Regions from separate parts of the Homo sapiens genome. Here regions 2 and 3 are each linked to region 1. The links come from fine-mapping of genetic effects on gene expression. Tissue or cell type: cerebellar hemisphere. Region 1 holds a variant in brackets; each other region holds the start of a gene. All regions are shown on one strand. Distances are from middle to middle.

Evidence for each region. PIP is the estimated chance that this variant, and not a neighbour inherited with it, causes the effect.
Region 2: CFAP299 starts here. The variant in region 1 is fine-mapped to the expression of CFAP299 in cerebellar hemisphere (GTEx, PIP above 0.99). The same link has a PIP of 0.9 or more in cerebellum and fibroblasts.
Region 3: BMP3 starts here. The variant in region 1 is fine-mapped to the expression of BMP3 in cerebellar hemisphere (GTEx, PIP above 0.99). The same link has a PIP of 0.9 or more in cerebellum.

The regions. Positions count from the first base shown.
Region 1 is chr4:80,282,238-80,290,604 of GRCh38, forward strand. It overlaps FGF5 (fibroblast growth factor 5), which reads left to right. Exons shown (of 3, transcript NM_004464.4): 3 at 4,088-8,367. The coding sequence ends at 4,435. Among named protein-coding and RNA genes, the nearest start is that of FGF5, 20 kb to the left of the region's middle. The variant G/GAGC (reference allele first, on the strand shown) is at 4,295.
Region 2 is chr4:80,330,975-80,339,341 of GRCh38, forward strand. It overlaps CFAP299 (cilia and flagella associated protein 299), which reads left to right and starts at 4,756. Exons shown (of 6, transcript NM_152770.3): 1 at 4,756-4,905. The coding sequence starts at 4,795. RefSeq lists an enhancer at 4,748-4,897.
Region 3 is chr4:81,026,525-81,034,891 of GRCh38, forward strand. BMP3 (bone morphogenetic protein 3) reads left to right here and starts at 4,184. Exons shown (of 3, transcript NM_001201.5): 1 at 4,184-5,076. The coding sequence starts at 4,761.

The DNA of each region.
Region 1 (8,367 bases):
AGATGTGAGCCACCGTACCCAGCAGAAAGTTCTTATTTCTCTTAATAGTAGTGTGTTTCCTCTCCTTGTAATAATCTGGATATTCAAGAAAAAATAGTTCGATTTGTTTAAAGTTCTTTTTTTTTTGTCAATTAGGAGTATATACTAAAGTACAAAAAACGCTGATTTTAAACATTTCATTTTAATTTTGCAATTATGGTTTGTTGAATGTAACCTGTTATTATTCTTGCCAGATCAAGGAGAAATTAAAGAGATTTTAATGTAATTTAAGTCAACAAAAACATGGGCAGGACCATGTTAATACTGTTTTCCACTGTAAAAGTGGCACCTAGCACAGTGCCTGGCATGTGATATCTGTGGAATAAATTAGTGAAAAATGAATATGAAACTTTTTAAACAAATATTTAAACAATTGCTTTCATTGTAGTGGCTGATGGTGGTAAGGCAATTAGATGAAGGAGTCTTGATTTCAGCAACTTATCTGAAATTTGATTCATCTCTCTACTTCATACTCTTTAACTATAGAAAAAGTCTGTTAATTTCAGGGGTTTTTTTTCTAGAAAAATAATGGAGTTCTATCATTTTAAAAGTGTATATTTTATTAGAAGACTTATAATTTAAAAAAAAGATTTAAAAAATAAAAATCAGCCTGGAAAATTTATTGTCCAAAATTTTCTAATGGTAAATGTATGTATTTTAGTACCTCTAGCTAAGACCTATGACTCTTTGCTATAAAGATGGTCCATGCACAACATTATGTATAGAGATATACTGCTTAGGGTCACCATCTTGTCTGAGCCAGACCGGGAATACTAACAGGAATAGTCAATCCTTCAAGATGAGTAAATTCACTGAAATGTTTGTTTCAAATGATTCTGTGTTCCATCACAGCTGGAATAATTTTTCAGACAAAACATTAAATTAAAAGTTAATTAAGAAAGCCAAAACAGTCTAACTGCGTTTACTCCCGTATTAATGTAGAATGTAGGATTTGGATGGCTGAGGGGCTGTGTGTACTGTGTAGATCCTTAGAACTCTACACACTTCTACCCTGGGTAACAGTTAGGTGACCTTTGAAAAATCTGAAGTCCAAATAGCCATCTCCATAAAGGGCTCCTCTTAAGAAAGAACTTTAGAATATGAATCTCGAGGAAAAGAGGAGGAAAAGAGAAAGATTTTAGATGAAACAATTGTAGGGGGTGGGGCAGGTGGGTTTCACTCATATGAAAGATCCTAAAATGGAAATGATATAGATTCCTGTTTTAAAAAAAGAAATGCTGTGGTGTGTGTCTGCACATGCACCTGTGCATGAGTGTGTGTGTGCCTGTCATCTACATTAGTTAAAAATGACATGTTCTTTCTTTATTTTCTTGGGCACTGTTGGGGGAAAATATTAAATAATGTAGTACATTGTAAAAACCTAACTCTGTCAAAATTGAGTAAAGCAATCACCGCTGTTTTTGTGAAACAGAGCTGGAAGTCAGATCAAGGCATAATGTATTACACATTTTCAAAAATGTCATTCAACTGCATTTTAAGAAAAAAAAAACCCGAGACAAGATAAATATACCTGATACTCTTTTTAATGAAATGTTTCACACCTTTGTAAAATTCTTGTGATCTGTTTATAGAGCCAGAAACATTCTAGATGTCTATAGCTTTTATTTTGAAATAAAATGTTGGGATTATCTAATTAAATGGGAAAACCATTTTAAGAGCTAAGCAGCTGTAGACAAATCTACAATGAATTTGTAAGCAAGTCTTTCTAATAAAAAATAGGAATAGTCAATGTGTGGTCTTCGAAAGTGATGTCAGCATAGCAGTCCGGGCCTAAATGCAGGCTGGCAAGGTGTATCGTAGACAGGGTGAAAGGGATGCCATACATAGGTGGTGATTGTTTATAATACCTGCCTTCGGCCGGGTGCGGTGGCTCACACCTGAATCCCAGCACTTTGGGAGGCCGAGGCAGGCAGATTATCTGAGGTCAGGAATTCGAGACAAGCCTGGCCAATATGGTGAAACCCCGTCTCTACTAAAAATACAAAAATTAGCTGGGCATGGTGGCACACACCTGTAATCCCAGCTACTCAGGAGGCTGAAGCAGGAGAATTGCTTGAGCCTGGGAGATGGAGGTTGCAGTGAGCCAAGATAATGCCACTGCACTCCAGCCTGGCCAACAGAGCAAGAACCTGTCTCAAAAACAACAACAATAACAAAACAACAACAACAACAACAACAAAGAAACAAACAAAAAATACTTGCCTTCAGCCTGCTCGAGATCATATCCAGAGATTCACCAGTAGACTTGTGGAAGATCTACATATATGGCTTCATAACCTGCCAATGGAACTTTGTTGATTGAACTACACTTAAATATAAGTAACTCCAGTAAACTATTGTACATAAAGTGAATGTGCTGTTGGAAATGCTCTGATATTGGTTGGCTTCTACTACTGTCAGTAACCTGCACTGCTCAGAAACTCCATGTGGACTTCAACAGTGGATCTATGTAGATTGCCTTGCAATATTCAGATTTTTAGATTTCTGTGTTATGATCAGTATTTCAAAGAAAAGTTTGGCATTATTAGAAAAAACAAGGAAAAAAAGGCCATTTTATTCCCGTATAAAACTTCTTGGTTTGATATAGAAGTATGTAGCTTTTAGTGTTTTTATATATAGGGGACAAAATATTTGGTATTCTCAAACACGGGAATTCTGTGTAAATAGTACTCCTTGAAATTATGAAACCTGGTAGTCTTAACTAGTACAGGAATTCTTAATTCTTTGGGGGTTATGGGCTCTTTCAAGTTTGATGAAAGCTACAGAATCCTCCTTTGGATTCTCATAACAGCCCTATTGTTGTAAGTGTTATGGATAAGGAGGCTAAGGCTAAGAGCTTAATTGGCAGAACTGGTTTTTGATTGCATGTCTGACTCCAAGTTCACACTCTTCCCCCATTCTCCCACATATTCCTTCAAATTTTACTACATGGCAAACTAAGCTCTTTCAGAGCTGGTGCTGACCTACATTGTCTGGCTCATCTCCTTACTTCCCACATGCATCCTAGGTAGAGGTCACGCTGAACTACTTACAGGTATTTGAAAGTGTCATGTTGACCTTTCAACACCCTGTTCCTTCTCCCTGAAAATCCTTTCTTATTTTGCCTTCCTCTCTAATGCTAGTTAGAGAACATTCCTAGTTGTACTTGAAGACTCAGCTCAAATGTCACCTTTTATAGGAAGACTTTTCTGCCCTCTTCTTGGCCACCTCCACCCTCTTAGATGCCCTTCCTCTATGCTGTCATTGTACCCTCTGCATACCGCTGTCATAATTCCATTTATCAAGCTGCACCATGACGGATGTCTACTTGTCTGCTTTTCCACTATTCTGTAAGCATTTCAAGGGCAGATATTTTGTGTGTGTGTAAGATCTGGCCAAAGTGTAGTTAGTAACTCGAGTGACTTTTTTCTTCTTGGAGTTAGATATACTTTCCTGTAATGCCTGAGTAAAGATACGTTATTTTTTTCTAAAGAACTCTAACACGTGCAATATTAATGGGGGCCATATGCTACTTCTCTCTCAGCAGCCTCAATCACACTGATAACATTGAAAAAATGCAAGCTTGTTTCAAAGGAATAATTTTGACCTCATTTCTGTGAACAGGAATTTATATTTTACCAGGCAATCATTTCTTAGTAATATAGTTCCATTTATTTTCTTAGTGAGTTAGGAGGAAAAACAGTATGTAAAAAGATTTGTAACTATACATTTCAAAGTATTTAAACAATAGTAACAGGGTTTAAATGTATCAAGAGTTCTGGTTACTTTTATAGTCATCGATATTATGTCACCAAGTAAGTAGGGAACAGAAATGTGTTACAAAGATAAATGAAGTAGAAATATAGAAAGAAAAATAGTAATTTTAAAGCAACTTTAAAATAAGCAAACATGTCTTTATAAAAAGGAATTGAGTAGGAGGAACAGAGATCAACAAAATTATTGTTTTTTTTTCTACAATACCTTATGTTTTATTACATGCTGAAAAGATCGCCACAACTTAAATTTCCTCTTTTTTTCTCCTCCTTAGGCCAAGTTCACAGATGACTGCAAGTTCAGGGAGCGTTTTCAAGAAAATAGCTATAATACCTATGCCTCAGCAATACATAGAACTGAAAAAACAGGGCGGGAGTGGTATGTGGCCCTGAATAAAAGAGGAAAAGCCAAACGAGGGTGCAGCCCCCGGGTTAAACCCCAGCATATCTCTACCCATTTTCTGCCAAGATTCAAGCAGTCG[G/GAGC]AGCAGCCAGAACTTTCTTTCACGGTTACTGTTCCTGAAAAGAAAAAGCCACCTAGCCCTATCAAGCCAAAGATTCCCCTTTCTGCACCTCGGAAAAATACCAACTCAGTGAAATACAGACTCAAGTTTCGCTTTGGATAATATTCCTCTTGGCCTTGTGAGAAACCATTCTTTCCCCTCAGGAGTTTCTATAGGTGTCTTCAGAGTTCTGAAGAAAAATTACTGGACACAGCTTCAGCTATACTTACACTGTATTGAAGTCACGTCATTTGTTTCAATGTGACTGAAACAAAATGTTTTTTGATAGGAAGGAAACTGGAATTCTTTGTACTAATACAGGGAGCACACTCCTTCAGTTCAGCAAGACATAAAGCCTTTTGCTTTATGCTTGAGGGATATTTAGAACTTTGTATTTTCGGAAAGTTAAATAACAGGGACTACGTATTTTTCTGACTTTTACAGATTAACCTGAAAGAACATACATGATACATTTTTATTTTTGGTTTCCAAAGAATATTTTGATGCAGATAAAATATTTTGTTAACTTTTGTTTTTTTTTGTTTGTTTTCTTAAAAGTACCTCTGCATTGAGCATATTTTCTTACTTTTATTATTTTAATTAATATGACATAAGCAATCATTTTATGCTGTTTATGAATTATAAATGTGTTTATAGCTCATTTGTAATATGGAAATCTTTTACATTTTTCCTATTCACTGCACTTTTTTATTGTTTTTATTTCTAGCCATACCTCAGATAATATGTTTAGTTTTACATTTTAAAATGTTTAAATTCTCTTTCACAGCACCAAAGGCTCAGCTTGGATTTGTGTGTATGTGTATGTCAATTCATGACATTATGTGGAATCCTAAACCTTTGGTGGCTGGGATATGATGGGTTAGAAGCAAGGAGAAAATATAAGGACTTTTTGATGGAATTAAATGTGGGAGGTAAGGAAAAGGATTTAGAGGTAAAAGTACACTAAGTTTGCAACATTTATTGAGATCTAAGTCTGTCTTGCCTTCATTTCTCTTTTTATCTCCCCCTTGCCCTCATTCTTGAACAGCTGGAGGAATACATTTTATTCTGTCCATGAAGCATACACTATGAAATTCAAGTGCTTAAAAATACTTCTATGACTCTCTGCTATCCCACTGTATAGATCCACAGGGAGCAAACACTTAGAAATGATAGAGAACTGAAGGAGATCAATGGTTTAACAGTTATCCATGCCAAGTCCCATTGTCAGAAATATTCTTATTACTCAGTCAAACACTCTTTGAGCTTCCCTTCCTAAAGGTAACCAATCCAGTGAATAGATGTGCCCTTTTATAAGGAAACTTCTGATGTTTATTAAAAAAACTGGCCTTTTGATAGAGGTAACTTAATTTGGGAATTTGTTGTGTTGAAATGGCATTTAATTTCAACCTAAATACTGACTGCTGGACATAAATCACAGAAAATTTAACTTAAGAAAATTTACAAAATTTATTCTCAGGTAATCATTTTAATAAAGTTCTGCAAAATACACGTTTATCTTACATTCAGAAATGTGGCAAAAAAGGCATAGCTAAAGGCTAAACATATGGCTTTAGTAGTAACAAAAGGGTTCATAGAAACTTCATGGTTTGCATTTAAACATGTTTAAAGTGTACTTATAAACTATTTTTTTCTTAAAGCAAACTATGATTTATTTTGGTGCACAAATACAAAGTGGAAACTTACCAAAATTGAACTAGCTACCATATAAGCAGATTGCTTTAATTTGATGGGAAAATAGTACACACATATATATAACAAATAATATATTAAAAAACCCATCCATCAACTAAAACATTATATGTATACATCAGTATAGTGTTTTATTATAAAGCCAATTATCTGATTAAGCATTCTTTCCACTGAATGCATAATGTTTAAATAGCATAAAATGAAATGCTACAAAAATTGAACTAATTTATACTTTAAAGTATTTCTGGGTTAAATGAAACAATGAAATTTTTTAGTATGTTCAACTCTCATCCAAATGGCATATGACCCTGTTTACACAGCCTAAAGCTAAAAATATTACTCTAGTTTATTCTAATCTATTGTTAAGTATTGTGCACTGTATACCAAGTTCTTAGGGCACATGAAAAATTTTAGCTGCCAAACAGGAACTAGTAAACATATGTTCCTAATAAGTGAAGGGAAAGATAATAATGATGGTCAACAATAAGCCACGTCAATGCATAAGTTGTATAGGCTAAATGTTGCTTGTAGGCTACATTAAACTCAAATGTAATAGTTTATCTTATACTCCTGGTTTGATTTGATTAGCATATTAACGTGAAAGTAGGATAGCTACTAAATATATATTATGCAAGTCAGGAATCATTAATTTCAAAATTTAAAGCCATGCTAAAATTAAAAAGAAAATATTAAATTACACAATTACACTTGTCTTTACTGGCCATACAAAATGATTTTTTTTTTTTTTTTGAGACAGAGTCTTGCTCTGTCACCAGGCTGGAGTGCAGTGGCATGATCTCGGCTCACTGCAACCTCCAACTCCCTGGTTTAAGGGATTCTCCTGCCTCAGCCTCCCAAGTAGCTGGGATTACAGACTCATGCCACCACGCCAGCTAATTTTTGTATTTTTAGTAGAGACGGGGTTTCACCATGTTGGTCAGGATGGTCTCAATCCTGGCCTCTTGATAGTCCTGACCTCATGATCTGCCCACCTCGGCCTCCCCAAAGTGCTGGGATTACAGGTACAATGATGTATAATTAATGCTTAGTGAAGCATAAAGTTACCTACATCAATTAATTAAATGAACTTATGTACAGAAAACATGTATAAATATAAGTCTATACTAATGCTTACAACTTTCTAAGAGGGTTCTTGCTTATGTAGCTTTTTATTATTTTAAGTAACTAGAACCACCAAATATCAAATAAAATTATTTGGTTATGGTTATGTTCATCTAAACACAACAATAACTTTTATATTAATATTTAGGAGTCTATTTTGTCTATAGGTGACAAACATCTCCAGACTAACATGTCAGTTTTATCAATTATATTATGTTTAATTATTTAAGATTTCTTTATGTGGAACATCTATAGAGATAAATAGAAATTTTCAATAAGATGTAGTAACACTGTGATTTATCTTTCAAGAGTCTCTCTTCACTTCCTTCTAAAGAGACTAATTTGAGAGTACAGGTGCATATTAATTTTCTTGGTTCTTTCAGCTGAATTATATTGGTCCAGAAGTTCAAAATCATGTGACAATAATAAGGGATACTGACAGAAGTTATTTCCAAGTTTGTGTATATATTATAAAAATTACATATATAAAACTAAGGCTTTTATTTCTGTTATTTTTAAGCTTTTATTTCTTGTAGCTAAAAATAAAACATCATAAATCTGGTAGGTAAATTTCTTATTAAATCAATCTTGAAATAGAAAATGTAATAACTTTCTTACCATTAACATTTTTTACCCTTCCATAGAAGGGAGGGAATAAATCATGACTTATCCCATTTTCAATAACAAAACGAAACTATGGCACTAACCAAAAACTTGCATTCTGGCATAATTTTTACAGTTGCAGAGAATTGTTTCTGGGCTCATTAAAAAAAGTAGTATTGCAGACATTGCTGCAATGGGAAGCAGACAATAACTTCTTAAAGGAATTCTACACCTCCTTTAAGATTTACTTAATTGCTACATCTAAATTCTGATAATTTAAAATCCATTTTAGGTGATAAAATTTTTTAAAAGTTTTGAAGGAAACCTCTGGATAAATGGACAAGGCCTAATTTTTTTTTGTAGTCAATCCAACTGTACTGGCCAATTTTTGAAATAAGATTATATGATTAGGTATTAGCAGAGACAAAGAGTTACCTCCTCCATCTTACTCTGCCCTATTTGAAAGTCTCAGGGGAGAAAAGGGAACAAGATGCTGATCCAACCTGAGTGGAGTCAGGTGAGGCATCTTTACATCTAAGAATTTTTTTTTAAATTTTATTATTATTATACTTCAAGTTCTAGGGTACATGTCCACAATGCACATGTCTGTCACACAT
Region 2 (8,367 bases), 49 kb after region 1:
TATAGACATTTGTCAAATACTTTATAATAATCAAGATATTGCAACAAATGATAAGTGCATTAGAAAGTGCTCTGGGAACACAGGAGACTACTATATCTTGATCTCTATACCGAGATCTATAATAGGGAGCTAATAGGTAAATGGAAAAAGTGTGTACTGTGAAAGAATGTCCTAGGCAGAGGGAACAGCATGTTTGAGACCCAGCAGCAAAAGAAGTGGAGGCTCCTTTCAAAACTGAAAAAAGTCTGGTGTGGCTGGAACATGTAACGTGTGCAGTAGAGGGTATCAGATGAAGGTCAGGATGTGGAATGTCTTGTAAGCCATGTCAAAAAGACAAAACAAAACTGTACTTTATCCTAAGGGTAATGGGGAGCCAAAGAAGGTTTTTAAAAGAGGCCTGGTGAGATCCGTGTTTTTAAGCAAACACTAACTACATTTTGAAGAGTGGAATGGAAAGAGGCCAGAAGAGTATAGGGAAACCAGAAAAGATTATATTCTTGGAGTTTAGGTACCAGACTTTGGCTTAGGCAAGGAACCCATGTCAATTAGGTTGGAGAGAAATTTAAGCCTTCAAGAGAAGTAATTGAGAGGTGGAAATAACAGGCCTTACATTTCAGGGGTGACGGAGAAGTAAGGTTCAAGACTGTCTTCCATGTTTCTCACATGAACAACTGAGAGGAGAGGAACCTGTGTGTTGAAAGAGGGAACACTGGAGGAGGAACAAATTAGGAGGCACAAAAAGAGGAAAATTTTCATTTATACATGTTATACATCCAGTGGCATCTGCTAGGCAGTTAGATATGTGATTGGAAGAGTGACCTAGTTAATTATATAGATAGAGGAACCATATGCATGTAAGGCAGTAAGTAAAGCAATAAGTGTGGGTGAGAGCTCCAAGTAACAAAAGTGTAGAGTCAGCAAAGGGTCTAGGAGAGAACCCTGAGACTCTCCAATCTTTTAAAAGCTAGGTAAGGAGAAAAGGGGCTAGCAAAGAGAACTGAGAAGAAACAGCTAATGGAAAACCAACGAACCAACCAAACAACCAACTAACCAACCTCAGTGCAAAGTAATGTGACAGAAGCTAAAAGAGAATCTCGAAGAGAAGAGAGTGGTCACAGGGTCAAATGCTGCTAAATGTCAAGCAGTCTGAGGACAGAAAAAATGTCTATTGGGCCTAATGGCAAAGATGTCATAATTGACTTTGGTGAAAATCGTGGAGCAGTGCGTAAAAACAGACTGGAATATGTTGGGCAGAAAGTGGAAGGTAAGGAAATGGAGACAGTGATTGTAGACAGCTCTTTCCAAAAGTTTTGCTGTAAAGGGCAGGAAAGCCTATAGCTAACATTGTCTGTGGAGGTGAGGGTGATTTTTGGGATCATTTGCTTATTTTTAAAATGGGAAAGGAGCTGGGGTGGGGAGGGAGAGAAGAGATAAATTAACAACAAAGAAGAGAGGGAATAATTAAAATGAGAAACCCTGGGAAGACAGAAGGAGATTGAACCTGTGTAGTGAAGGTATGGAAGGAGGTAAATCTCTTCCTTTACACAATGGAAGAAGTAAAACGTTGATATGAATGTGAATAAGCTTGTATACAGCATTTGACTGTGGGAAATCTATTGTGATAACTTACTTCTTTTGGGTATAAGAGTTAAGTTTATCTGCTTTGAGAAAGGATGATATAAGATTAAGGAGAGAGGAGAAAGTGGAAAAAGCCATAGTAGAAGGTAAGAGTGAACTGAAGAAAAAGATAACATAGATTGTAGGGCAATGCTGGGCACCTGCTTGCAACTGGCAGCTCCACATTTATTGTGGTGGCCGTCTATTCACAGGTGCTATGTTCTGATTGTTTGCCCACTCAGGGGGAGTGGAGTTTTAGGGTAGAGGCTGATTTCCATGTAGCCAAAAAGCTTGAGGGAATTTTCAGTGAGGTTTTTGGTAATGCCTTATAGAGCCACAGAGAGCCCAAGTTTTTCTCTGTTCCAAAGTGGTGGTTGTGGTGATCATACCCATCATCTATCCCATAGCACAGTAGTAGTTTTCAATCTTTATTAGCTGCAGACATCTGTCAACCCCAGTCCTGGGAGGAATTCCATCTTATACTTGTATTTCTCTCTTCTGAAATTTTCCTTTCACACTGTCAATGACAAGGCAGGAGCAAACTCCCGGATTATGACACATGAACACATTGTGTCTCCAGGACAGAGAAGCAGTGGAACCAGAACTCCAGCATCCTAGAATAACTGAGACTGTGAGGAAGTCCAGCGATCTCATCACGAGAAATAGCTCAAGTAAATTTAGTATCACCATTGTTTCTAAGTGCAAAAAAGCTCTCCTTGGCTGATGATTAAGCAATAGCCCTCATCTGCAGTCATAGTTAACAAGCAGCTAGGCAACACCAGACACAAATCTCTTGTCCTATTAGAGTAAGTATATGTTTTTTTCCTACAATATGATAACATATTAATAGAACGTCTTAATAGATCCTCAAGTTCTTATTAACATAAGCAAAACATTCCCTTCCTGTCATGTCAACAAACCAAAGTATGTTTTCCTTTCACTGTGTCAGCTATCATAGTATATTGCCAAATATTTTGGAATATAAAAGTGTAGAGCTTAATTTGAAACTTTTTAATATACTTCCACCAAGTAAGTACCTTAAATCTGGCATATATTTTGTTATTCTTACATAACATATGTTTCCTCTTTCCTACATCTTGGGGTTTTATTATGAATATACTAATCCTTCTTTGTCCTTTTGCAAAGAATGGAATTTCTGGGATCGGTGCTAAATTCCAGGTTTCAGTCTTTAAAAATCTTGGACTTGAAGTAGGAATGCATGTTATCCAAAATAAAGTATTTCTTGATCATAACAAAAGCCTTGCAATGAAAAGAGAAGCTTGCCGAAACTTACTAATTTCTTTGTTGCCACCCTTTCATTTCTCAGGCACAGGTCTGAAAGTGGTTCTGAAGTTAAATTGAAAGTTTAGAAAAGGACAATTGAGTTATACGCACTATTAATTCTAGCCTTACTGTGAGGAACAAGGATAAGTTTATGAATTTTCTTGATATTAATAGAGAAGCTGATTTGCTGAAAATCAGCCTCAGTGTTTTGAGTTAGAAGACATTTCTAGACTCATTGACTGAAAATAATTTCATGATTGTTTAAATTTAGATGCTGTAGAGATTACTTCATCAAAGAGATGTTGACCAAATGGCAAATTTAATGAGGTTTCTCTAAAAAATGCACAATCACAATTGATATAATAGAACAATATATAGCCAAACCATGACCTCACATTTTACTAACATATAGGTCCTTTTCATTAAAGTGCTCTAGTTTAATAAACCCAAACATTCTCTAGATGCTTTACTGTTTCTTAAAAGTGATGAAATCTTGATATAGGAGGATTCTTCTGCCTCAGCTTCCTGAGTAGCTGGGATTACAGGCGCCCACCATCATGCCTAGCTAATTTTTGTAATTTTAGTAGAGACGGAATTTCACCATGTTGGCCAGTCTGGTCTTGAACTCCTGACCTCGTGATCCACCCACCTCGGCCTCCCAAAGTGCTGGGAGTCACTGTACCTGGCCTATTATTACTTTTGATGGGTTACCAGTGTCCAAGGTTTTATCTCCTTTTTGTTTTCCCAAATTCAATAATTAAATTGCATTCAAAAATAAGGCCCAAAATATCTTTAAAAACATGTCAGAATACATTCATTAAACAAACAAAAAAACAAGTTAGTAGCATCCTAAATATTGTGTCTATATCACTTAAAATTTGCAAGTCATGACATCCTAATTTTTAAGATGAACTTTTTAAATTAGGAAAGCTAACTGAAATGAAGTATCTTACCAGATGTTTTCATTAAAATTTTGTTAGCAAATCTGTGAAAATCTTCAAGATGAATTAGAAACGTACTTACAGAGCAACAATTAAAGGCTTAGCATTGTATTATATGCTAATTCCCAAGGATGGTTTGTAAAATATTAAAATCCAAAGATTGGTTCTGAACATATTTTGCCAGCTGTTGTGTTGGATTACTTTAAATTCATATTTTAAAAACACAATACTGTTCTGAAGAAAACAAAAAATCTTTAGTGAAAGACTTTATTTAATAAGATTTCACAGATATTTTATTCTTTAAAAAGGGCAGCTTCAACACAGCAAAATTTTTCACTGTGCTAAAATAGTAAAATAAGTGCAAGAACTTGGTGCCAAAAAAGGTCTGCAAAGACATTTTTTTGACTGAGTTTCTTTCCTTTGGGAATTTCATAAATTGCTTCTTGTACACAAACATTAGCAATAATTTACCTTTGTTATAACTTTAAAAATAATTTAACAAAATCATTATTTTATTATTGTCGTTGTCACAACACCATTTGATATACTTGTTTTTGAGACAGTCTTTTTGCAAAATGTCTCGGTATTTTTGTCTTGCATAACATTGTTTTAGAATGCAATTGGGAGCTAATTCCTAATATTTTGTCTAAGTATGTAGGCAGTGTCATACTTTTTAACTTTGGATTGCAGTTTGCACCTCTCTGGTTGCTCAACAGTTCACTGAAGCCTGAGTCGGTGGATGGGTATCCGACCTGAACTTGGGTGGGTAATTCCAGAAAGTTTTCACAGGAGTGAGGCAGAAGACAGAAACTGCAACAAACCGCCGGGGGGTGGGATTAACGTCCAAAGCTCACACCGGCTTCAACTGATTGGCAGGAACGAAGTGGGTGGAGCCTCCTGACCCTGCCCTCCTGCTTCCGTTGCTAGGGACGCTTCGGCCGAGGATACCGCAATGGATCAGGAAGAGGGGCTGAAGGCCTTGGACAATATTGTCACTCAATTCAACGCCTATGAAGATTTCCTGGACTCGCAGATCACTACTGTGGACTTGTACTACCTGGAGGTAAGGGCGGAGCGCGGCAGAGTAGCCGCCGCCGCGCGTCCCTCGGTCCCTCCTCGAGTTCCCGCTTCGTGGGCTGGTCGCCCCCTGGCGCTGGACAGCTCAGCTGTCAGGCGCCGCGGTTTCGGGACCGCGACACTAAAGCCGCTGGCGAGGTGAATTGCCGCGTCCTTACCGCCCCGCGCTCCCCGGTCCGGACAGAACTTGGGCCCCTAGAGTCACCCAGCGCAGAAACGCGCGGGCACACTCACACTGGGGAGCCATGAATTTGTGCTTCTTGGCCTCCCCTGCCTCCTCCCAGCCCACTCCCATTCCAAAGCCGCTCTCTGTGAGGAAGGAGGTCTGCTGAGAAGTCTCCGGCTGTGATCTAGGACAGACACCTGTTTCTCTCTGCTTTGCCAATTGGTATATTAAAGAACAGAAGATGGCATCTTTACACCAACCTAGTGTATTTGGTGTTATATTGGGCGTTTGGGTTCATGAACTTCCACCTCACACTAATTGATTCTGAAAGTACTTTAATTACAGAGACGCATTACAGGTAGTTGTGCAGACATATTCCTGATTCAAGTTTATCGAGTTGATGATCACAACTAACTTTGATAGTAAAAATATACACACAAAAAAGGAGCGAAACTGGACCTAATGGGTTGCTTTCCTCTGCCCAACAGCCAATCCCCTCCCCAGCTACCCCCGCTGCAGGGTGGTGGGGGACAGAGTGGAGTTCTTGTCCTGTGCCACGGGAGAACCCGGACGCGCAGGAATTAACAAGTCATCAGTGCTAGGAAGCTGGGAGGCGGACGATGGCTCCTAAAGTCCCAGTATATTCCTAGCCAAACTTCCCGGATAGGCCCACTGAATGGACACTCACCTGGAGAGTCGGCCGTGCTCTCCACAGGACCCAGAAATGCCTTATCCCTATTTAGGCCAGAGAGAACAGGCGCCACTATGTGGTGAAAAGCCACATCAGTCTGGGAAGGATTTGCATCCTGCCACCAGCTCCCCACACTTCTGAACTGCAACAAGGTAACTGCATTTTAGTGGATTGACACTTTTGGACTTCAAAGATTGGTTACAGAGGCATTTCACTTAAATATGGATTACAGGTTTCAAAAGTGTTATTCTTCAGTACATTTAAAAAATAAATGTAGGTGGTATTTCCAATATAGCTCCTGGCTTCAAAAGCAAAATTTTAAAACATTATACAGATAATATATTTAAAGTCATAAAAGTCAGTTTATGCCTTGCATCCAAGACACTGAAAAAGTAATGCTGCTAAACAATGTTTACATCTAAATTTTTGAATGTTTAAATAAACAAAAAATGAAATATACGCTATAAACATCTTGATAGACTAAAATCATCTTTGTAGCATATGTGGAAGATTGGCAAATTTAAACCTAGTATTATTAAGAAAGGTTTTAATATTTTTTAAGGCACAGTTCTTCATGTGAGTATGGACCTAAAACATTAATATTAATTACAGATGTGAAATTAATAATTTGTGTTTCATCAATCAGAATTTTTTTTTTTTTTTTTGAGATAGAGTTTCACTCTGTGGCCCAGGCCAGAGTGCAGTGGCCCCATCTCGGCTCACTGCAACCTCCGCTCCCCAGGTTCAAGTGATTCTCTTGCCTCAGCCTCCCAAGTTTCTGGGATTACAGGTCTGCACCACCATACCCAGCTAATTTTTGTATTTTTAGCAGAGACAGGGTTTCACCATGTTGGCCAGGCTGGTCTCGAACTCCTGACCTCAAGTGATCCACCGGCCTCAGCCTCCCAAAGTGCTGGAATTACAGGTGTGAGCCACCACACCCAGCCCATCAATCAGAATTCATTAAAGGTTTCCAAAATGGAAGGTGGTAATTATATTTGGGGAAATGACAAAGAAATTTACTTTTATATTTGGCATTGATTAAGCTTATTTTTGTTGTACTTTCATAAAAAGTAAGATGAAGATTTAGTTGAATAATGATAATTAGACAGGTATATATATGTTTACATATATATGTATATATTTGGATTGATTAGTGACAACTTTTAAAGTGCTATTATTTCTAGAGATCTACATTCTCAAATACTTTCTGTGGATGTAAGTTCATTGTGCACTTAGGTCACACAGAAACAAGTAGACTCCTCAGCATTCTTTCAGTAGTATGGCAAGCATGTTTCACAAATCATGGATCATGCTAAGTGAGCTGATACTTGTGCTTTTCCTCTCTCTCTCTCTCACACACATCATCATCATCAGTAACTGACTTTGATTTGAATGGAACAACTTTTAAAACATTTTATTTTAACTAACAAAATTGTCGATATTTATCATATACAACATGATGTTTTAAATTATATATATTGTGGAATGGCTAAATCAAGTTAACATATGTATTACCTCACATAATTATCATTTTTTTGTGGTGAGAACACTTAAAAATCTATTTTCTTGACATTTTAAAAGAACATAATATATTGTTATTAACTGTAGTCACAATGTTATACAAGAGATCTCTTGAATTTATTTGAATGAAACAAATTGTAAACTGTAAATTAGAGGTAGCATGTTTAGTTAGAAGAGGCTAGAGTCACAAGATTTTTTTTTGGTTCTAACTCTGCAATATTGTGTTTTTAATCAACTTGAAATTCCATTTTTTACCTACAAAATGAAACAGTTGGACTAGATTATTCAAGTTTCCTAAAGTATATAAAATGTTATGAGTTATCTATACTTTCATCTGATTATCTGTACACCCATGTATTTATCCAGCCACCTTTTTAGTCGATAATCCTTCACCAAGCGCCTGATGTAGTGGATATTGCCTACACTGCTAAGAGTTTAAGTAAGAATCTATTCTAGACTTGACCTCAGAAACCTAAGTATATAATGCTTACAGTCCGGTCTAAGTTTTATTTATTCAGCAAGCATTTTACAAACATTTACTATCTTCCAGGTACTCTTGTATTGTGTAGTATATTCTGCTCCCAAAAGTTTTCAGTTAATCTGCATAAAAAGTTAGTACCAATGATTGACATACAAATAATCATATAATCTGTGCCAGATCCATTCTGTGCCCCTGGACAATGACCTTCACAGTCATTAATCAGGAGCTTTTGGCTTTGGGTTGGTTTCAGCCAATAGGAGGTACCAACTGGAGTGCAGGGGGCTGGAAGGAAGTGGTTAGATAATTTATTCCCTGCCATCTTCCTACTGTCTGTGGTTTAGAAGCAGCTACCTTCCTTAGGTTTGGCCATCTTCTCATTCCATTAGCTATAGCACTCTCTCCAGGGTCTGGCAGCACTCCCTGCTCTAGGAATTGCTTCCTCCCTTATCTTCTTTTATGCCAAATGGTGTTAATGGCTTCCCACTGTTGCTAACCCAAGGATGCTTCACGATCCCATGTTGGTTTCCATTAATTTTGCCCGTATCTTTGTAAATAGTGCTTTTATTCTTTTTGGTCGTGAGTTTGC
Region 3 (8,367 bases), 740 kb after region 1:
AATAACAGAGATAGCCTCTATATGATTTAGCAATTAATTTATGTTGCTCAGAGAGAAGGAGAAGGTGAATAGAAGTCTAAGACTTGGAACGTGGATGGCTAAAAGGATAAGAGTGCCAACATAAAGGTTTGGAAACCAAGAATATAATTAAGATGGATGACCAGTTTCATTTTAGATGCACTGAATTTATGATATCAACAGGATAAACACAGTTTATAAAAACTGGGGCGGGGGGAGCTGAAATACTGTAGAGACTTAAGGTTAGAAATACTTGTGGAGTTATTGGTAACTAAATACAAGCATATAACTCAAGTGAGTTAACTAAAGAAATAATGGAGAGAAAGATTGGTATGAATTTGGAAGAGGACCCCAGAAGAAAGACTTCTCCCACCTAAGTGTAGATGATATTCTTTCTCTGTCTGAAATAGCCTATCTAAAATACCCCCGGAAAACCACCTACTTTGCTTTTAAATCTCAGTTCAACTACCATCTCTCCCATGCAGCACTCTCTGCCTTACTCAGCCAGGGGAAAAAAAAATACCTTTAAGTTTTTCAAGTGGTTATTCCTATCTCCCAAGTAGACTAAGTTTTCAGGGGACAGGAAGCATTTCATTTTATCTTTGTATTCTCAACATGAAATTGTCAAGAACACAATAGATACTAAATATGTATTGAGTGAATGAATCAAGGATGGGAGTAATAAAAAAGAGGAAGGAACCAAAACTTCACAACTGCTAATATAGTCTTACATAAGTATTCAATAATAATGGTTGATGGGAAGTTTTTAGAAAATAAATGTATATTACTCAAGAATATCAATAAAGACAAGCATAATACACATACATTCATACATACACACATAGGGTTTTTATAGTCAAAAGTAGAGTTTAATGCAACAGAATCCACTAATCCACTAATCTGCTGTTGTTTTCTGTTTTAGAAATGCTTTCCTTTAACTCTCCTTGTGTTTGGGAAAAAAGATTGATAAGTATCCTCTGATTCAGTAGTTGGCTATAACAGTCACAACCTCTAACATAAAATAGGAAAGACCTATTATTTAAAAATTAAAACAACTCTTAATTAATGCAACACAACAGAGAGATCAAATACAAGGCACGTATACTACCAATATGTTCAATTCAGTTCCTCCTGAAAAGCTGCAAATCCTCCATACATCAAGGAAACCAGATGCTCAGCCAGAAATATGAATCCTATGATTTAAACCATTTGAGTGAAGGCATCTCAAGATGCCAGCATTCTGAAACAATTTAATCCATCCAGAGCTGGGATTCTGCAGCCTTTGATAAAAGAAACACTGTGCTACTGTCTTGAATATCACAAGATGGCATCTCCAGGTGTGCTGATGAGGGAATTGTTTTTTTCCCATTTAATTTGCTTTCAATTCAATTTCCCAAGAAGTCATTCCAAGAGTCTGGGAGGGGTGCCATTTATTTGTCATTGCTGGACATGCTGCTGCTGGCTTCATCCATTTCATCCATTGCTCCCTCTTCCTGGATGTATGTTAGTTGCAAATGAGTTATTATAAGTCCAAAATTTGGTTGCTACTAGTGTTCTCTGGTTTGCTGGCTCCCATATCCATATTCTGTTCTAGTCTGGAATTACAGCTGGGAATCTCTGTTAGGGATTATTCTACTTGCTCATCATCCCCTGTTACTATGATTATTCTGAATGACATGGCTGGTCATTAAAATATAAAGATGGGTATGCCTTGATCTCTGCCTTAGACAAAAACAGACAAGCGATTCTCTTAGGTCTCAGCCGACTCTTTTTAAGCATTTGCTATGTGCTAGGCACTCTGCTAATCTCTTGAAATGGACTATCCAATTATTCTTTACTACAACCCTGTGAGATGGCACTCTTATTTTATGCTTATGGCTTAAATAACAGATTGGAGGTGCAGCAAAGGGAAGGGAGCCATTGTAGACATGCTGTCAGTCTTCAGTATCTATGAATGAAGAATCATGTGGAGTACAGAGTGGCAAATGTTGTGACAGAAATATGCACTGTAGCTAAAGGGAGGGAAGTCTCAAAGATGGTTTCAAAGGGGAAGAGGATGAACTTCTTTGGCAAGGAGGACTGGAGCTGAGGGGGACCCAGAACTATATATTTAAAGGCCAGAGGTGACCACCAAAGCAGAAGAACTGAAAAAGAATTTTCTTCTGGATTTGGCATTTTCCAAGGGCAGAGTAAAGATGTCAGGAACGCTTGAGGCAGGCCTAGAAAGAGGAGGCAGCTGACAGAACTGAGAAAGGGCAGAAAGGAATGGAAAAACAACCAATAGTTCACAGGGAAAAAATCAAAGAGAGAGTTTCCAGGGCCTATTGAATTTTGCAATTAGATCTTCATTATTAATCACAAAAGCTATTATGTTCTTTATGCCAAGCAAAGATCAAACACATGATCTCATTTAATCCTCACAACTACTCTTGAAATATGTGTTATTATCTGCAGAACAGTTCCCGGGGTGGCTAAGGGCAAAATCCAAACCGCAGTGGGTTAAGAAGTGACTGAGTGGGGAGAATGTAGTCTGGATTTGGGATAAATTTAGGATAGAAAGGGATTGAGCCCCTATTAAAGGCTAGTGAGTGCGCCAGTCACTTTAGCACTGCTTTCTAATGTCATCCAAACAAAACTCTAAAAGGAATGTGTTGTTATTCACCATCAAAGAAGAAACTCAGATCTGGAGACATGGTGTGACTCCAGGAGCCTATCTTCTTTTCGATCAACTCCATTGCCCTACAGAGGGGAAGAGGGATAAATGCAATAGACATTGACTGAAGATTTTACTGCATATGGTCAAGAACTGCACTAAACATTTACATGGATTGCACACTGAAACTTCAGTTTAAATGCTAATTTCACTATTAATAGTGTGGTTATCTGGCCTGAGGCCAGAAATCAGACTCCCTGAATTTGGATCTCAGTTCTGTCACTTACTATGTATCCTTTTGCCTCAGTTTCCTCATCTGTAAAATGGGTTTTGCTGTGAAAATTATTTGGTAATATACTTGAAATATAAATAACAAGGCATGTCTAGAGCATAAGTGTGGAGAAAAATGTTAGCTCACAGTTGTTTTTTGTTTGTTTGTTTGTTTTTTGTTTTGAGACAAAGTTTGCTCTGTCACCCAGTCTGGAGTGCAGTGGCACAATCTCGGCTCACTGCAACCTCCATCTCCTGGATTCAAGCCATTCTCTTGCCGCAGCCTTCCCAGTAGCTGGGATTACATGTGCGCACCACCACGCCCAGCTAATTTTTGTATTTTTAGTAGAGATGAGGTTTCACCATGTTGGCAAGGCTGGTCTCGAACTCCTGACTTCGTGATCCACCCGCTTTGGCCTTCCAAAGTGCTGGGATTACAGGCCTGAGCCACTGCGCCAGGCTGCTCATAGTTTAATCTCCATTGTACAGCCATGACAAGAGAGAATTAGGAAGACAAAGCTAGCGACTCTTACATTCTGTTCCGGACTCCGGGATCTTCCACACACCCTTGTTTTTAGCCACCACTGCACCATCCTGCTGGGAAACCTTTTGGGGACCTGTAGGAAGGAAACCTTTGGGGGAAGCTGTAGGTGGGGTTGTGGTGTGTTTGCTTGTTTTCTTATTTGTTTTTAACATGATATTGACTCGCACATATTTCTCACCTCGAGAGAAGATGATGCGGGAGAGAGGGGCGTTATGATGGGTATGCTCTCAGAAAGACAGGAAGCTATGATGACGGGCTGCAGGTGCAGGGGCCCGCAGTGTCCGTCAGAAGAGGCTCGGGAAAGTAAGCGAGAATGGTGTTCACGTTGTGACTTTGTTTGGAATCATAAGACCGAAAAGCCAGGAAGAAGTTCTGTTTTCCTCTGCCCTCTTGCTAGCCACCACACAGCCACTGTTCTTGGAGAATTAAAAAAAAAAACAAACAAAAACAAAACAAAACAAAACAAAAAAACCGTCCCTCCTACCATTTCTTTAGTCCTGAATCTCCTTTTCCCTTCCTCTCCCCAGCCATCCCCACCCCTACTTCCTCTTCTCTCCCTCCCGCTGCCAGTTCTCTGGTTACTCCCCCCCTCCCTTGCTTCTATCCCAGCCTGGTGCAAGCTAAGAGGGCGAGGACGAGGGAGTGGGAGAGATTGGCTGAGGACTCTACAGATCAGCTAGAGAGCGAAAGAACTAAGTCTCTCTCTCTCATACACACACACACACGCACACACGCGCGCGCGCGCGCGCACACACACACACACGTACACTAAAAAACTCGGACCAGCCGCGCCGCAGCTGCTCCAATCCCTGGAAAAGGCAATCGAGCGCCCTCCGGACCGCTGCGCACAGCCCCGGCTCCGACCTGGCGCCCAAAACAGAGCTAGTCCTAGTCCCTCGCGCGGCCAGTTTGGCCGGGTGTTCCCAAAAATAAAGCGAGGAGGGAAGGTACAGACAGATCTTGAAAACACCCGGGCCACACACGCCGCGACCTACAGCTCTTTCTCAGCGTTGGAGTGGAGACGGCGCCCGCAGCGCCCTGCGCGGGTGAGGTCCGCGCAGCTGCTGGGGAAGAGCCCACCTGTCAGGCTGCGCTGGGTCAGCGCAGCAAGTGGGGCTGGCCGCTATCTCGCTGCACCCGGCCGCGTCCCGGGCTCCGTGCGCCCTCGCCCCAGCTGGTTTGGAGTTCAACCCTCGGCTCCGCCGCCGGCTCCTTGCGCCTTCGGAGTGTCCCGCAGCGACGCCGGGAGCCGACGCGCCGCGCGGGTACCTAGCCATGGCTGGGGCGAGCAGGCTGCTCTTTCTGTGGCTGGGCTGCTTCTGCGTGAGCCTGGCGCAGGGAGAGAGACCGAAGCCACCTTTCCCGGAGCTCCGCAAAGCTGTGCCAGGTGACCGCACGGCAGGTGGTGGCCCGGACTCCGAGCTGCAGCCGCAAGACAAGGTCTCTGAACACATGCTGCGGCTCTATGACAGGTACAGCACGGTCCAGGCGGCCCGGACACCGGGCTCCCTGGAGGGAGGCTCGCAGCCCTGGCGCCCTCGGCTCCTGCGCGAAGGCAACACGGTTCGCAGCTTTCGGGCGGCAGCAGCAGGTGAGTGCGCGAGGTGAGACTCCCTTCCCGCGGTCCCGCCCCAGCTTTCTCCCGGGACCCCCCACAGCTTCCTTGTCTGCCCCTTGCTTGGTGGCGCTGCCTAGGGACCTTTCTCCGCCCTCCTCAGCTGCCCTCTGGATTCCTCCGTCCAGTCACACCCCGCGTGTCGCCAGCTGCATCTCCTGTAAGCCCAGTTTTCAAATCCAAAGTGAGAGGGGGAAATAGAATGAAGGCGCGGAGCAGTGGAGGGGTAGGCTGGAGGAGCTTCGTGGAAAAAGGGAAGGGGCGACACCCCATGCCTGTGAGGCCTCCTGCCCTGAGTGACTGGAGCACCTCTAGGGTACCTTATTCTGTTGATTCCTAAATCGGCCAGCGGAAATTCCTTTGGACTGGGCTTTAGCCATGTTTACTAAGAGGCAGATGCCATTTTATGCCAATGCCAGGACCCGAGAGAAATCATACTTGAATAAGACGCCTTCCCCTCTCCTTTTCTCCTTCCCCAGTCGCTTCTCCAGATATTGCACCCGCTCCTAATTCGCGCCCTTTGTGTTACTGTACTATATTTGACACTTTACTTGATAGTTCCTTAGTGGCAAAAAAAAAAAAAAAAAAAAAAAAAACAGGTGCTTGGGTGTTTCGATTATTAAAACGCATCTGGGTAAACAGGGGTTGTACCATCCATCCTGGGAGGAGCTGGGAGACAAGGGGAGGGAGCAACCCTGGATGTAAACACCTCTTGGAATCTGCCCAAGAAAATCTGCTCATCCCATTTTTCAGCACAGATCACTTCGGACTGAAATTCATGGCTTAACAAGGTTTCTCCTAGCCCCTGTGGTGAAGGGAATAACTTATGCTAACAGCCTCCCTCCCTTGTGTTAACAGCTTGAGGGAAAGCTTCCTGGACACTAACTCTGTTTTTATGCTTTGAGGATTCACCAGGCTTTTTTGTTCACTACATTCATGATAAGGGGAAATGTAACTGCAAAGCCTGTCTTCAGTGAACAGTTGAACAATAGCCAAGAATCTTCAAGAAAATGAGGCCATGCCTCAGTCAATACTGTCAGAATCACTAGAAAGAAATCTCCCAAAGTTTTGATATGCAAGACTCCTGGAAAAAGGGAAAACTAAGGCATTCATCAAGGAAAGCCCTGCATTGTCTGTGTAAATATATTCTAGAGCTTACAGGCATGATGACATTTACAATAGATGTGAATTATGCTTCCTAATACAGAAGTCTTTAGCTAGAGACTGAACTGAACCAGATTTTACTTTCTTCTTAAAACCATGAGCATGATCTGTGAGGAGAGCGCCACCAGTAAGGAAAAAGAAACCTGCTCTGTGTTATCCACAGTATCCTAGCCATTGGAGGAGGCTGTCCTGACAGCTGACTACACCAGTGAATACTCTGTTTACTTTAGTGCAACTCTAGGGGCATAACTCAGTGAGTAACTCATGTGGGAGTTGCAAGGATTGAAAGGAAGTTGGGTGAGCTAGGCAGGTGGCAAAAATGAAGGTACTCAAATGACTCTTATCTTGATATTTGTTTTCTTGGTTATATTGCTAGGGAGTAGCTGAGGCCCCTAAGATAAAAAACAATATGTTTGGGATTAACAAGTTTCATTTATAGAATGAACCACATGGTTTGGAGGTAGAATTTGAATTTGTTTCATTCACGTATTGTATAGCTTTTATTTGTTTTAGGCCAAGTTAACCATGGATAAAGATTTTAACAACTCAGGCACCATATTCTTTTTGGCTTCAACTCATTCCTTGCAGTATTCCAGAGTGTGCCTTATCAGCCTCACTGTAGTCTCATAGCATCAAATAATAAACTCTGATATGGAGGCCAGACATTCCCTTGAAACGATGAGTTGCAGCTTGATGCATATATACAAGGCTGTGTGCCCTGATAAGAAAAGTAATCCCTTTAGCATCCTAGAGACTGTCTTAATGACTTATTCATCAAATGTAGACACTGGTTTTTGTGGAAGCTTAAGTGTCATGTTACCTCATTGAGGCTCCTGGTGAGGTGGTTCGTGTTGGGCCCCTTCCAAGAGTGTTTAGTTACTAACACACTAAAAAGACTATTATAAGGCAGTTCTGGCTCTAATAAGGCAGGACTCTAGGAAGGTGCTAAGGTTTTCATGTGTGTCCCTCTCTCGTCATCCATATCAGCATTTCCATAACACCCTTTCACCTTGTGACATATGTTCCCTTGTAGGTGAAAGATGCTGTCTAAATTAATATAGTAGATATGTTTTCCAGTCCAGAGTTTTTAAGTTTTAGAACATATGGGTTTCTCTGTACTGAAGACGTTAGAAATTTTAATGGAAGATCAGGTGGTGTGCTGTGTATGGGGCAGCTGCTGATCCGGCAGCCTCTGAGTGCTTATTCAGGCTGAGTTATAGCTTTAGAGTCCTGTTTGTGCCTTGGTACATACCTGATTAAAATTATTTATTGTTCTAAACCTAGAATATCTTCGATTGAAATTTAGCTGCTGTGGTCTCCCTCTGATTACTTTCTACTTAAACCATTACTTGATGGTGGGTGGCATTCATCCTAAATACACTTTCTGCTAAACCCTTTTCTCCTCCCTGAATGCTATGTAGTTGGTGTGCCAAAACCGTAAGTTTGGAGTGCTTGTAAGTTTTTTTGTCATGTGGAAGGGTTTACATAAAGATAGGTTTTATCTTTCCCTTTGCAAAAGGTAATTCACAAAATCTATTAGTGACAGAGAAGGTCAGCTTCATAAAAATACACCATGTGAAGGAAGACAGAAGGATATGAAATTAGCATTTATTTTGATTTTGGTTTAAGTTGTCTCTGGCTACTATATGATAAAGAAGAATATTTTACATGAATTTTTCTTCTGTCTTGATCTTTTAAGATACTTTAGGATCATCACTTTCTCATGACTCCCATAGTCACTTAATCTTCCTTTTCTTAATGACAAATATAATCTCTTTAGGAAAAACAATTAAAGCACACATGTTGTTAGGAAACTTTCACTATTCATGACATGCACCCACCAAAATAGCACATTTTAGTGAGTACTTATCACCTTTTAAAAAATCTCACATACTTCATAGATTTAAAAAAATAACTGAGGCAATCCAGCCCCACAAGTGAATATTTTCCTGCAATGAGGAAGAGGAGATTCTTTCCTCCTATGACCAAAGTACTTTTAAGATAAGTAATTATAATATTGAAATGTTTCTGAAGTATAAGGCTAAAATATAAGGCTTCGGCAAAGATAGTATATAACTAAGTGTTGAATGATCATCCCAATAG